Linked DNA regions of Homo sapiens: all the other regions are reported to be linked to region 2. Evidence: microRNA targets listed by miRTarBase, many of them from high-throughput screens and not tested one by one. Region 2 holds a microRNA gene; each other region holds the end of a gene's coding sequence.
Evidence for each region. Region 2 holds the annotated microRNA hsa-miR-4778-3p (UCUUCUUCCUUUGCAGAGUUGA, at 1,150-1,171, shown strand). A microRNA usually pairs through its seed, bases 2 to 8, with sites in the 3' UTR of a target mRNA and lowers its output. Matches are read on the target gene's strand: a 7mer-m8 pairs with bases 2 to 8, a 7mer-A1 pairs with bases 2 to 7 and ends in A, and an 8mer does both.

Region 1: miRTarBase lists PNMA5 as a target of hsa-miR-4778-3p. Seed matches in the 3' UTR shown: 7mer-m8 at 781-787, 7mer-A1 at 1,093-1,099, 7mer-m8 at 1,197-1,203 and 7mer-A1 at 1,207-1,213.
Region 3: the mRNA of SUN2 is a reported target of hsa-miR-4778-3p. Seed matches in the 3' UTR shown: 7mer-A1 at 2,753-2,759.

The regions. Positions count from the first base shown.
Region 1 is chrX:152,986,630-152,990,726 of GRCh38, reverse strand. PNMA5 (PNMA family member 5) reads left to right here. Exons shown (of 4, transcript NM_001184924.2): 4 at 1-1,903. The coding sequence ends at 475. Among named protein-coding and RNA genes, the nearest start is that of PNMA5, 5.4 kb to the left of the region's middle. RefSeq lists an enhancer at 375-874.
Region 2 is chr2:66,355,331-66,359,427 of GRCh38, reverse strand. It overlaps MIR4778 (microRNA 4778), which reads left to right and starts at 1,100; the gene lies at 1,100-1,179.
Region 3 is chr22:38,732,646-38,736,734 of GRCh38, forward strand. SUN2 (Sad1 and UNC84 domain containing 2) reads right to left here. Exons shown (of 18, transcript NM_015374.3): 18 at 2,089-3,735. The coding sequence ends at 3,622. GTPBP1 (GTP binding protein 1) reads left to right here. Exons shown (of 12, transcript NM_004286.5): 12 at 1-942. Among named protein-coding and RNA genes, the nearest start is that of SUN2, 21 kb to the right of the region's middle.

The DNA.
Region 1 (4,097 bases), not on the chromosome of region 2:
TCTCTTAGCTCGGGTCGCCATGACCCCCGCCCTCAGGGGCAAGCTGGAGCTCTTGGATCAGCGAGGGTGTCCTCCCAATTTTCTGGAGTTAATGAAGCTCATTCGAGATGAAGAAGAGTGGGAGAACACTGAGGCAGTGATGAAGAATAAGGAGAAGCCATCAGGGAGAGGCCGGGGGGCCTCCGGTAGACAGGCAAGAGCAGAAGCCAGTGTCTCTGCACCTCAGGCCACCGTGCAGGCAAGGTCTTTTAGCGACAGCAGCCCCCAGACCATACAGGGAGGCTTACCCCCATTAGTGAAACGCAGGCGGCTGTTAGGCAGTGAAAGCACTAGGGGAGAAGACCATGGCCAGGCCACGTATCCCAAGGCTGAAAACCAGACTCCAGGCAGGGAGGGGCCACAGGCTGCAGGAGAGGAGTTGGGAAACGAGGCAGGGGCTGGGGCCATGAGCCATCCCAAGCCCTGGGAAACATAGGCTCAGAAGACCGAAGCACTCCTTCCCCTGGCAGGCAGCAGGGACATTTGAACAAGGGGAAGGGGCAGCTTACACTAACAGGGAACTTGACTGGGGCAGAGGGACAGGGAAGCCAGGTCGAGATCAAGCCCCCTTACTTTCCACCAGCTGGAAGGGACTTCACCAACCAAGACCAAATAGCATCTGGTTCAGTGGGGGCCGGGCCCATAGCCCCTAACAGGTACAGGAGACACAAGCGGGGAACCACTACACTTAGCACATGGGGTGCCTGGGCTTCAGATGGGGACCCCAGCGAAGCAGGGGCTGAAGAAGGTGTGGCTGGGGGCTCTGGCCTGGTCCTCTGGACACCCCCAAATATCTACCCTGTGGACTTTGAGCTGAGCATGCCCACTGGCACCCAGGCCACGTGGGACCTGGAGGAGCCTGCCTGGGGCCTGCCTCTGCCAGAAGGAGCCAGGGCTGCTGAGGAAGAGCTGTGGGGCAGAAGTGAAGCCCCGCAGGGGAGGCCACAGGGTCCAGCCTGTCTTTAGGATCATCTACACTGCATGAGGGGAGCCCCAGGAAGGCAGCATTCATAAGCCCCTGCACCAGTGAGGAAGAGAAAGAGGAGGAGAATTAAGAAGAGGATGATCGGGAGGAGGAAGAGGAGAATAAGGAGGAGCAGGAGGAAGAGGGGGAGGAGAAGGAGGAAGAGGGGGAGGAGGAAGAGGGGAAGGAGGAGGAAGAAGTGTAAGAAGAGAAGAGAGGATGTGTTGGGGGTGGGTAGTTGTTTTTGGTTTGCGTCATCATCAGGCCCGGGCTCTGCTCACTGCTGTTCCGTGTCAAGAACTCCACCTCTGCTTTGCCGGTGTAGATCTCGGCCAGTGGCTGCTTGTTCTCTTGGGGATGTGTGTGTTTTTATCTGAGCAGCTCCTTTCCAGAGTACCCCAGCGCAGTTCCAGGAGACGGTGGGAAGGAGGCATGGCAGACGCTCACCTTGTGACTGTGACCTCGACTGCAGGAGGACCAACCAGACACGGGAAGGAGCAGGGCTGCCTGAGGCTCCCCAGGAAGCTTTGTGCTTTGGCGTTCCACCCCTGCTGTTACTCGTGACTCAGTTTCCTCAACTTGGTGGGGTGTTCCCTGCTATGTTTTCCAGCATCCTGTGACTGTCCTGTGCAGTCTATAGGGCAGGGCCCTGCCCCAGCGGGTGGGCTCAGGAGGGGGTTCCCTGAAGCGAGTACACATTGCCAGAGCCCACCATCCTGGCAAGAGGTGGATCCTGGGGCCCTATGGAAGGAGGGATGTGGTGGGGGGGGCCACACTGAGGGAGGGGCCGGGGACTTGTGACCTGTAGTGGCTGTTTGCAGTTTCTCTCTGTGTTAGATTCCCTTTTCTTCAGCAGTTTCAGTTCATGTTTCTCTTCAGTAAATTTTGTTCAGTGTTCCAGTGGTGTCTTGCCTCTGCTGTGTGAAACTGGGGTGGGAGGTGGTCTGCTGGGGATGGGGCCACAGTGGCCAGGCTGACATCGAGGTGTGTGTGGGGCAGGGTCTATGAGGGCCTGTGGGGTGCCTTGGGCTGCATGGAGCCTGGCAACAGGATGCTGGTGGTCATGAGCAGTGACTGGCTGGGTACCAAAGGCACTCCAGGTGTCCTCAGGAATAAGTGACTTGGACATTGAAGGCTGGGCAAGGGGCAGCAGGTGGGTCCCAGGCCCCTGATCCCTGGCAGCACTGTAGGGGTGTGGCTCAAGGCTTCCGGAAGGGTCAGAGAGGCCACGTGTGCAACCAAGGCCAGCAACCGAGGTCAGAGAAGAGCCCCAGGAGGGCCTGGACAGGCAGTCAGAGGCCCTGTGAAGAGCTGTGTGCAGGACTCGGGGTGGGGTAGGGGCTGGTGTGTGCCCATCCTCCCAGATCAGCCCGCAGGTGGCCAGCCTTGGCCTAGCCACTGAGGGATGTTTGGGGACAGTGTGTGTGTGATGGCCAAGGGGACAGAGTGTGGGCGAGAAAGGGATCCCAAGTGCTCATGTCTTGGGGAGGGGGAGAGGAAGGGCGGGGGAGCTGCACTTCATCCTGGGTCCTGTCCTGCTCCCTTCCCAGTGTACTGGGAGGCGCTCTACTCCTGTGTCCTGGGAGCAGGCAGTGGGCCATGAGCAGGAAGCCTAGATGGCCCTGGGGAGTGACCCCTTTCTGTCCTGCATCCCCGAGGCCCTCTGAGCCCTGGATGCTGCCTGAGGAGGGCTCCCTCAGGATGGACGGCGCTGCTAATCCAGACACCCCTCCTTCAGCACTGTGGCCAGAGGGGCAGTTCTTGGTGGGGGCCTGAGGATCCTGGAACCCGCCCTCCTGAGCCCTCCTGGGACTGGCTCTCTCTCCCAACAGGCCAGGGAGCTCGCCACAAATGGAGGGTAGTCCTCGATCAGCCATTTAACTAGCCCAGAGTCTGTGGGCGACAGAACTGGGACAAGTGATAGGCCCCTCCCTGCACATGTGTGGGGAGGGGACGGGATCATTGACTTGGACGTGGCGAGGGTCTCCCGGGGCTCACTCAGTCTGTGTCCACACACTTCCTCCGGCTGTTCTGGAGCACAGAGCCTCCGGCCATCCCCATGGCTCAGATGATAGCCAGGCTCCCCCAAAGCAGCCTCAGAGCCAATGCTGGGAATGGGTGGCTGCCCACCTGGGCTGAGGAATCCTGGATCTAGGCGACCTGTCTGCTTGAGCGGAGCTGCAGTCAGCAGGTCTGCAGGGCGGCAGGGGCCCTGGGAGACACTCGGCATACACAGGCCAGTGCAGGCATGGGAGGGGTAGTTTTGCGGGGCTGTCGGGGAGGGGCAGGGGGCGGCAGGTCTCTGGGGCTGGGCCTGCAGCCTCCCCGGCCTGAAGGTGCTTAACCGGTGTCTCAGGGACCCTTGTAGTGTGTCCCATCGGGGTGCCCTGCAGGCATGCCTGGGGCCCCCACTGTGCTCTGTTCTCCCTGCCTTCTTCAGGCTGGGCACAACCCCAGCATGTCCGTCCCTTGTGTCTCAGCAGGGCCAAGTCAACTGCTCACTTTCCAAGGGCCCCTCCAGATTTTGGGGACAGGGCAAGAGGAGAGGGCATAGAGCTTGGCTGACCTTGCCAGGGCCTGTCAGGGCTCCTTGGTTTTCCCTGTTCAGAGTGGACCTGTGTGTGCCGTGATTCCCAAGCAGGTGTGAGTGTGAGTGAGCGGGTGTGTTTGAGCGTGTGCGTGTGTGTGTCAGTGTGAGCATGTGCATGAGTTTCTGAGAATGTGTGTGAATCCAAGTGACAGAATGTGACTGCATCACTGAGCGTGTGTGAGTGGGAGGGTGTGGGGGAATGAGGCTGTGCCATTGAAGGTGAGCATGCATGTCGCTGAATGTGTGTGACACTGTGAGTGTGTCAGTGTGTGTCAGTGTGTGTGTGAGTTTGTGAGTCATTGTGCGTGCGTGCGCTGACTGCAAATGTGGGTGTGTCAATGAGCAGGCATGAATGCGTCATTCAATGTGTGTTTGTCACTCAATGTGTGTGCGCATGTGAGTGTGTCTGGAACATGAGTGTGTGAGTGAATGTGTGTGTGACTGTGTCAGTGGGCATGTGAGCACACAGGCTGGACAGTTGGGTTGTGAAACCCGGAAGGGATC
Region 2 (4,097 bases):
GCTTCTTTGTTTCTTTGGATATAAAAGCTTATCAAATGGCTTTTTCAATATCATCCTCTTTTCAAAAGTGGATGAAGGGTTTATAGTCTTCAAAATATGATAACACTCAGAAGTGCATTTTTCTCAGTATTGTTTTGAAAGCATAAGCACTTATAAACAATGATTTTTAACCTTGGATGGGGGGACCAATAAGTTATTGTTAGGTGTCTATTAATCTACTTGTTGTGCAAGCATTCTCTAGAGTCTGAGTAAATAATATTTTAAAAGCTTTACTGAGATTATTGGCCATTTTTGTCAGTATGTTTTCTTAAGTCATACTAAAAGTTCAACTCATATCACTAAGGGGGTATGAAATTATTTTTTTCTTGGGGCGGGGAAGTATGAGATATAAAATTCTCAACTTCCAAGTGATATGATTTGGCTCTGTGTCCCCACCCAAATCTCATGTTGAATTGTAACCCCCAGTGTTGGGGGAGGGACCCGGTAAGAGGTGATTGGATTATGGGGGTAGATTTTTCCCATGCTGTTCTTGTGATAGTGAGTTATCATGAGATCTGGTTGTTTAAGAGTGTGTAGCACTTCCCTCTTTGCTCTCTCTCTCCTGCTGCCATGTAAAGATGTGCTTGCTTCCCATTTGCCCTGCCTCCATGATTGTAAGTTTCCTGAGGCCTCCCCTGCCATGTCTTCTATACAACCTGTGGAGCTGTGAGTCAATTAAATCCCTCTTTATAAACTACCCATACTCAGGTAGTTCTTTATAGCAGTGTGAGAACAGACTAATACACCAAGTAATAAAACCTCAACTTAAAGTAGCTGAAGTCAAAAGGAGAAGTTGTTGGCTCAGATTGTTCAGAGGTATGTTGAGCTCCATTTGCCTTTGTTCAGCTTCAGGCAAGCTTTTTCCATAAGGTGGTGAGAGCATCCTGGTGCTTGCCACATGAATACATGATCCTGAAGCTTTGTGAACTCAAGAGAGACTTTATCCCAACAATCAAACTCCAAAGCAGTGTTTGGATTGGTTATCCCTACTTCATGTATTTCTCTCTGGACTAATCACAGGCATTAAGACATATAAGGTAAACTGACTGGTCAGTGTAAATCACATGTCCAATTCTGTAAAGGAAGAAGAGGTAAGAAGAAGTGAAGCCCTCTTCTTCCTTTGCAGAGTTGAATATGTGGCTTATAGTCCTTCTAGAGTCAACATGGAGAGAGAGAGGAGACACTTTCCAAACAAAAAAAGGATGTGATGAATAGACAAGCAATTCTTGTCCACTGAAAAAAGGGTTCTTATATTTGCTTCATATTTATAAGTCTTAGGGATATTATTCTAGAATTACATTATTATTTTCTTGATGTTTGCACTACAGTTCTCCTCTAGGTATTAGAGGTCAGCTAAGCACAAATGAGATGAATGGGAATACTCTGGGAGGCACTGTTTCTGCAGCCAATCCCAAAGAGGTTTGTATGCCTGTGTGTGTTTGGGTGCGAGAAGAAGAAGAATGAAGTGTCAGAAGGAGAGCTGTCAAAATGAAATATCAAAATTCCCTTAAAATCCAAATCTCAATTCTGTTCTGTAAGTTTAAAACAAAACAAAATGAACTTGCACACATACACACACCACTAGGACCACCACTACAATCACCACTACCAAACAGATGCAAGCTATAAGGTTTTAATTCCAAAAAGACCCAGAATATTTCTATTCCTTATTTGTCTTTAATTATTGTGTTCTTTTTGTATGGGCACCCTAGATTGGGAGATTCAGCCCTAGGATTAGAGCTCGGAGTAGCATGGATCTCATTCCCAGGTCTCCATTTCTTGGCTAGCTTCTTTTCCCTGGACAATCCATTCCTTCACAGGAGTCAGTAATTCTGCAACTAATCTAATGCCCATTTACTTTCCTTATCTGACTCTGTCTGTCAGTCTTTTCACTTTCATCTCTTCTGGCATTACTCCTCATTTCCTTAATTTTCCCTACATTTTCCCATTATGTGAAATAAAAACACTTCAAATCCTTATTTCACTTTTCTCAGCTATAGGTATTACAGACAACTGGCATACCATGAAGATAAGCTGACTCTTACAAGAGTAATACAATGATGATGAAAATGAACATTGAGTCCTTATTATTTCCTAGACACTCTATCTATTATTATCTATTTAATCCTCACGCCAACCTAATGGGATGGAGTAGTAGATCCATGTTAGTTTTATTTGAGAGGTTTCAGCCTTTGAATGGCTGAGTTCAGCCTTTGAACCCATTTCTTACATTTGAGAAATTTCTAATAATATGAATTTTGCTTGAATTTCCCAGTATGGAAGTCAAAAAAATTCTTGTCCCAGGCTACCCTGCAGCTAAGGTATGAACACATCACCTATACTCAGCCAAACAGAGGTACCTGCCTCAGACTTTAAATTTGCATTGAGAGATGCAAAAATCAGGAAAGCAGAGAATTTATTTCTCCTTTAATGGTTGCAGAGGTGGCTTCAACATCAGCTTCCAGGGTTTACAGAGGCTGTGGTGGTGACATTAAATGTTTAAGTTCAGTAGCAATAACAGATAAGCCTCAGTATTCAGTGTCAGCAACAGTCAGGTGGAGTGATAGAGTCTCCACCTCACTCACATTGTGGCATCATTTTGGCTGTGGCTCAGGCTGTTACCTGCACCCCTTCTTTATGCCATTTCTGAGTCTGGTAGTTCAGCCTTCCCAATGTTTTCATAAACATAAAATACAGTGTTGTGGAGTTGAGCCACAAAGAAGCCTTTTCTACGTGCTTTCTCATACCCTTGCAATAAATTCCCTACTGTCTAATCAGCCATAGTTAGTTTATATCACTTGAAACAAAGAAATTTGATGGGAACAGAGATCATATTTTAAATTTCCTTCTATAGATTTGTAAACTCAGGCTTTTTTTTATTATTGTTATTTTTGGACAGAGTTTGGCTCTTGTCACCCAGGCTGGAGTGCAGTGGTGTGATCTCGGCTCACTGCAACCTCCGCCTCCTGGGTTCAAGCAATTCTCCTGCCTCAGCCTCCTGAGTAGCTGGGGTTACAGGCATGCACCACCATACCAGGCTAATTTTTTGTATTTTTAGTAGAGATGGGGTTTTGCCATGTTGGGCAGGCTGGTCTTGAACTCCTGACCTCAGGTGATCCACTCACCTTGGCCTCCCAAAGTGCTGGGATTACAGGCATGAGCCACCGTGCCCAGCCAATCCAGGCTTAAAGAAACAAATCTATTGCACAAGGTCAAACACAGAGTCTGGGGTCTGGCTGTTTGGAGAGCCAAGATTTGTCTCCCACCCTCATGCAAGCAGGGAAGAAAGTACTACCAATAAATGAGATTGGTCTGAAAGTAACTTAGAAAAATTAGGCATCCTTGATTAATGTCTCAGTTCTGGCTCTAACTAGCTTGATGTGGCTTGTCTCTGTGTCCCCACCCAAATCTCATATTGTAGTTCCATAATTTCCACGTGTTGTGGGAGGGACCCAGTGGAAGATGATTGAATCATGGGGGCAGGTCTTTCCCATGTTGTTCTCGTGATAGTGAATAGGTCTCACGAGATCTGATGATTTTAAAAACCAGAATTTCTCTGCATAAGCTCTCTCTTTGCCTGCTGCCATCCACGTAAGATGTGACTTGCACCTCCTTGCCTTCTGCCACGATTGTGAGGCCTCCCCAGCCGTGGGGGCTGTAAGTCCAATAAACCTCTTTCTTTTGTGAATTGGTTATGTCTTTATCAGCAATGTGAAAACAGACTAATACACTGGCCCTATGCTTTGCATAAGTCATAGTTTATTGGGATAATCTTTCTTTGTCTAGAAAGTAAAAAGTTTGGTCAGCATTGGTGCTTTCTAACTCTTAAGGATGGGGGCATATAGCCATACAAAAACATTTGAAAGGTACTGAACTTCTGTTTAGCAAAATTCACATTCAAATGTGTTATGTCCAACTTCACCCAAGCCCATCCTGGGATGTCAATGAACCCTAGGATGAGAACCTTGAATTAGATGACCTCTTGTTTTGGAGTTTTCCAAGTAAAACTTTGTGTGATTTCATTGTCTGGGTGAATTTGCTATAATTAGAGACCACAA
Region 3 (4,089 bases), not on the chromosome of region 2:
ACGCTCCTGTTGACATTCCCAGCAGCCGCCCCTGAGGTCGATGTTTGTTCTGTTTTTCTTTTTCTTTTTTGAGACGGAGTCTCGCTGTGTTGCCAGGCTGGAGTGCAGTGGTGTGATCTCTGCTCACTGCAACCTCCGCCTGCCAGTTTCAAGTGATTCTCTGCCTCAGCCTTCTGAGTAGCTGGGACTACAGGTGCACGCCACCACGCCCAGCTAACTTTTTGTATTTTAGTAGAGACAGGGTTTCGCCATGTCGGCCAGGGTGGTCTTGATCTCCTGACCTCATGATCCACCCGCCTCAGCCTCCCAAAGTGCTGGGATTACAGGTATGAGCCACCGCACCGGGCCTGTTCTATTTTTCTAGTTAAGGGAACTGAAGCTCAGAGAGGTGTCACCAGCAGGTGTTCATTCCCATGCCAGCCTTGCCCCCCGGCTTTTCCCAGGCAGGCTCCTGCGTGCCCACTGGCTCCAGCCTGGTCCTCTGTCTCTTGGCTGCTTCACTCCTGCTCTTTGTCCCGACTCTGGCCCTGCTTACAGGGGCCACTACCTGCTGGTGCCTCCATAACAAGCGTCTGGCGTTGAGACCCCTGGCATGGCAGGGGCTTTGGGGTCTGGTTTCCACAAGGCTTAGCCATGGCAGAACCTCGTTTTATTTTAACTCTTTGCCCCTACAAACAAACAGCAGTACTTGCCAGAACCATTCTTGGGATTCAGGAGCTCGGGCGACTGCCTTGGCCTCTGGCCGCACCCAGGAGGGTGGGGTTGGATCTGTGTAGTTGCCAGGCCCACACCTGCCAGCAGGGGGCTGACTGGATCCATGCTTTACTGTGTTTAATGGGGGTAACAGGGGTCCCTACAGCCCTCCCAGCTAAACATTTGGAACAAAACACCAGCCCTTTTGTAGTGGATGCAGAATAAAATTGTTAATCCAATCACCTCCAATGGCAAGGCCTGACCCTTCTGTGTGTGCAGCAGGTGTTTGTGGCGTCTTTCCCAGGAGTAAGGCCTGTGATGGTGGGATGGGGATGGCCAGACCCCTGACTCCACAGTCAGGACTGTTCTGGCTTATCAGCCACCCTGGCACAGAGAAGGTCACAGGGATGAATATGCCACGCACAGGGGCAGCACAGGTTTAGTTGGGTTGGGGGAAGTACCATGGAGCCGGCAGTGTGAGGGCTGTGCTGTGAGGGCCCAGTAGGATTTGAATGTACAGATGGGCAGAGGGCATGTGCCCAGCCCAGGCTCTGGACTCTTGCCACAGTGTGTGGCAACTTCCAGGGGCTTGTTTATTGGTGCTGCGTGGGGATGTCTCCTTTGTTTAGATGGCGTCAGAGGCAGAGCAGGTGTCAGTGAAGGGGAGTGAGCACAGGACCAGCTGTCTCCCAAGAGGCTGAGGAGCTGGCCCAAGGCTTTGGGGGCTGGATTTGTGCCTCACCCAGCTCCTGCCTTGTGGCTGTCTCCACAGTCCTCCCTACTGACTGGCTTTCTGCCTTTGTTTTCTCAGCCATGATGAGGAGCAGCCCTGGGCCAGGTGCCACGGTCAGTATGAGAGGCTCCAGGATCAGGCTAGAGAACCACGCGAACCAGGTCTGGGGAGCTATCTGTGGGAAAGGTCAGGGCCTGTTTTTCTCCTAAGCTGCTGGCTGTTCAAGGGACCTACCTCCTTGTCCCTTCCCAGTCACAGGTCCAAGGGGCAAATAGCGAATTCCCATGGAGGAGAATCACTGCACTCCAAGTGGACGTGGCTGGTAGGTAAGTGTAACTTTTTCTGCTGCTGTTCAGTGGTACTGAGAGACAGGAAAGCCCCACTGCTCCCGCCCCACCCTTTGTGATGGGTTATCAATGACAGCTAATAAAGCCACCTCACTGCTTCCTCATGCCAGCCCTTGACCCACAAACACTGGAGGAGACCTGCCTCAGGTCCCATCCCCCACCACAACTGGGCTTTAGCTGAAAGTTGTGGGTTTCTGAACTTCAGGAATAAGTCTTTGGGGACATTCGTTTGGCCAAGAATTCATTCCCTCATCTGCCCAAGAGCAGCTGCCCTAGGTGATAGGCAAAAGCCACATGAAAGCCACATCCCACAGCTCTTGGGCGTCATTTATTTTTTGCATAGGCATAAATTAGGATCTGGAGATAAAAAACTTAAGAACCAATAGTGCAGCATTTGTGACAGGAGAGCGCAAAACAAACCCTGGCTGCCTCGGGATGGAGCGGGGCGGCCTCACCACCACTGCATCCAGCCTCATGCTCCAGAGCGGATTTGAGGCTCAGTGCTGCAGTGAAGGCCTGCCCGCCTTCTTGCCCCTTCCCCGCAGCCAGACCACCAGACACAGCCGGAACCAGTGCCCCAGGCCCCTCTCCACGGCCAGGAACAAGAAACTGAGTATCACCCAGTGCCCCACAGAACGGGGCTAGGAATCAAGCCCTTAGCTTTTCAGTTAGAAAAACAGACCTTGAAAAATATATACATAATACAGTGGGGCCTGCTGGCTCTAAAAGTCCCCTCCTCCCCCTTCCCTATCCAGGGTAACTTCTGCCAGCCTCTTCCCCCAGCCCCCACCAACTGCCCCACAGAGAACAAACCAGAAGGGCGACTACCTGAACAAGAGCTGCAAGAGCCCAAGGGGGCAGCCTGAGCGGACGACCCCTACATCAGGGCCTGGTTAGATGTGGGGGCCGGTGCAGACAGACCTCGCACCCCGATACCCTGAACGTCCCCACAAGAGCCCAGGAGTTCCATGCTCCCCACTCTTCTTGCTATAACCCCAGATGCTAATGGCCCCAAAGACAGGTCTAGGTCTCCATACCCTGGGAGAATGTGGAAAGCAAGCTCAGGGGCACTGGCAGGCCCTAGCAGGAACAGGGAGCAGGGTGGGCCCCAACCTAGCATCAGGAGAGAGAAAAGCAACTACCGTCCCCAGCAGAGGGGAAGCCTACAGGGTTGGCCCTGGGCCCCTTAGAAGATCACAGCAGCCAGTCCCCTTTAGGGCACAAGAAGCCCCATGGCCCACTGCTACCCTCCCCGGGACAAATACACACTTTTGTCGAAGGCCCTCAGGGACCCTGTGGTTCATGCTTCCCTAGGTGGAGGGCACTAACCTTGTAGGAGAGCTGGGCAGCTCTCCATCAAGTGCTTCCTGCCTGGGGAAGTCCCATCCTGCTCTGGAGCTAAGCACCCTCCTCCCAGAGGGCCTCGCTTCCTTGCCCAGGGGCAGAGGCAGCTCACCTAGCCCAGGCCGTAGCTTGCCCCTCCCACAGCCCTGGCACCTGCTTCATCAGCTCCCAGGCACCAGCCCCTGACCCCAGCCAAGACCAGTCAGGTCCTACCTCTCCCAACTTCCCAGTCCCCCATGATATGCTACATATATACACACTCCCAGGATGGGAAGCAGACGCCACGGGCACAGAGGGAAGGAAGAAGGGAGCTGCTGGAGCCTGCTAACCGCCTCGAGCCACCTGCTGCTCAGGAGACCCTGCCCGTCCTTTTCATCTGCATGGGGCCACAGGCTCCTCTCTTGTGCTCCTAGAAGTCAGAGCGCCGAGCAAGCGTGTGGGGGAAGCGGCGGGGTGCTGTTCACCCACTCCCAGATGGCTGGCAGCAGGCACCAGTAAGCAGGGCTAGTGGGCGGGCTCCCCATGCACTCTGAAGCGGTAGATGCAGGTGTACTCGGGGTGGCCCCAGTTAGTCAGGATCCGCAGCTCCACCACCTGGTACGTGGCCATCGTAGGGGCCTGGGTAGAGAAGAAAGGGATTAAGAGCATCAGAGACCTGTGAGGCCTCACTGACAGAGAAGGTGGGAAGGGGAGACAGCCTCGCCTAGGGCCAGATGGCTCCCCTGCTCCTTCCCTGGGGCTCTGAAGAGAACCAGGCTTCAAAAGCTCCTATCTTTAGCCTCCTGAGCAGTGTTTCCAGCCAGTGGGTTAAGGGGCCACCTGTAGCACACTTCATCTGAAACCGGAATGAATTCATCCACAATCGTTTTTTTATTGTGATCAACAGATAGAACCACCTTCATAGAGGGCTTCATAGATGCTGATGTGGGGCACACTTGATTCTTTTTCTCCAGTGCCCATCGGGCCTCTGTC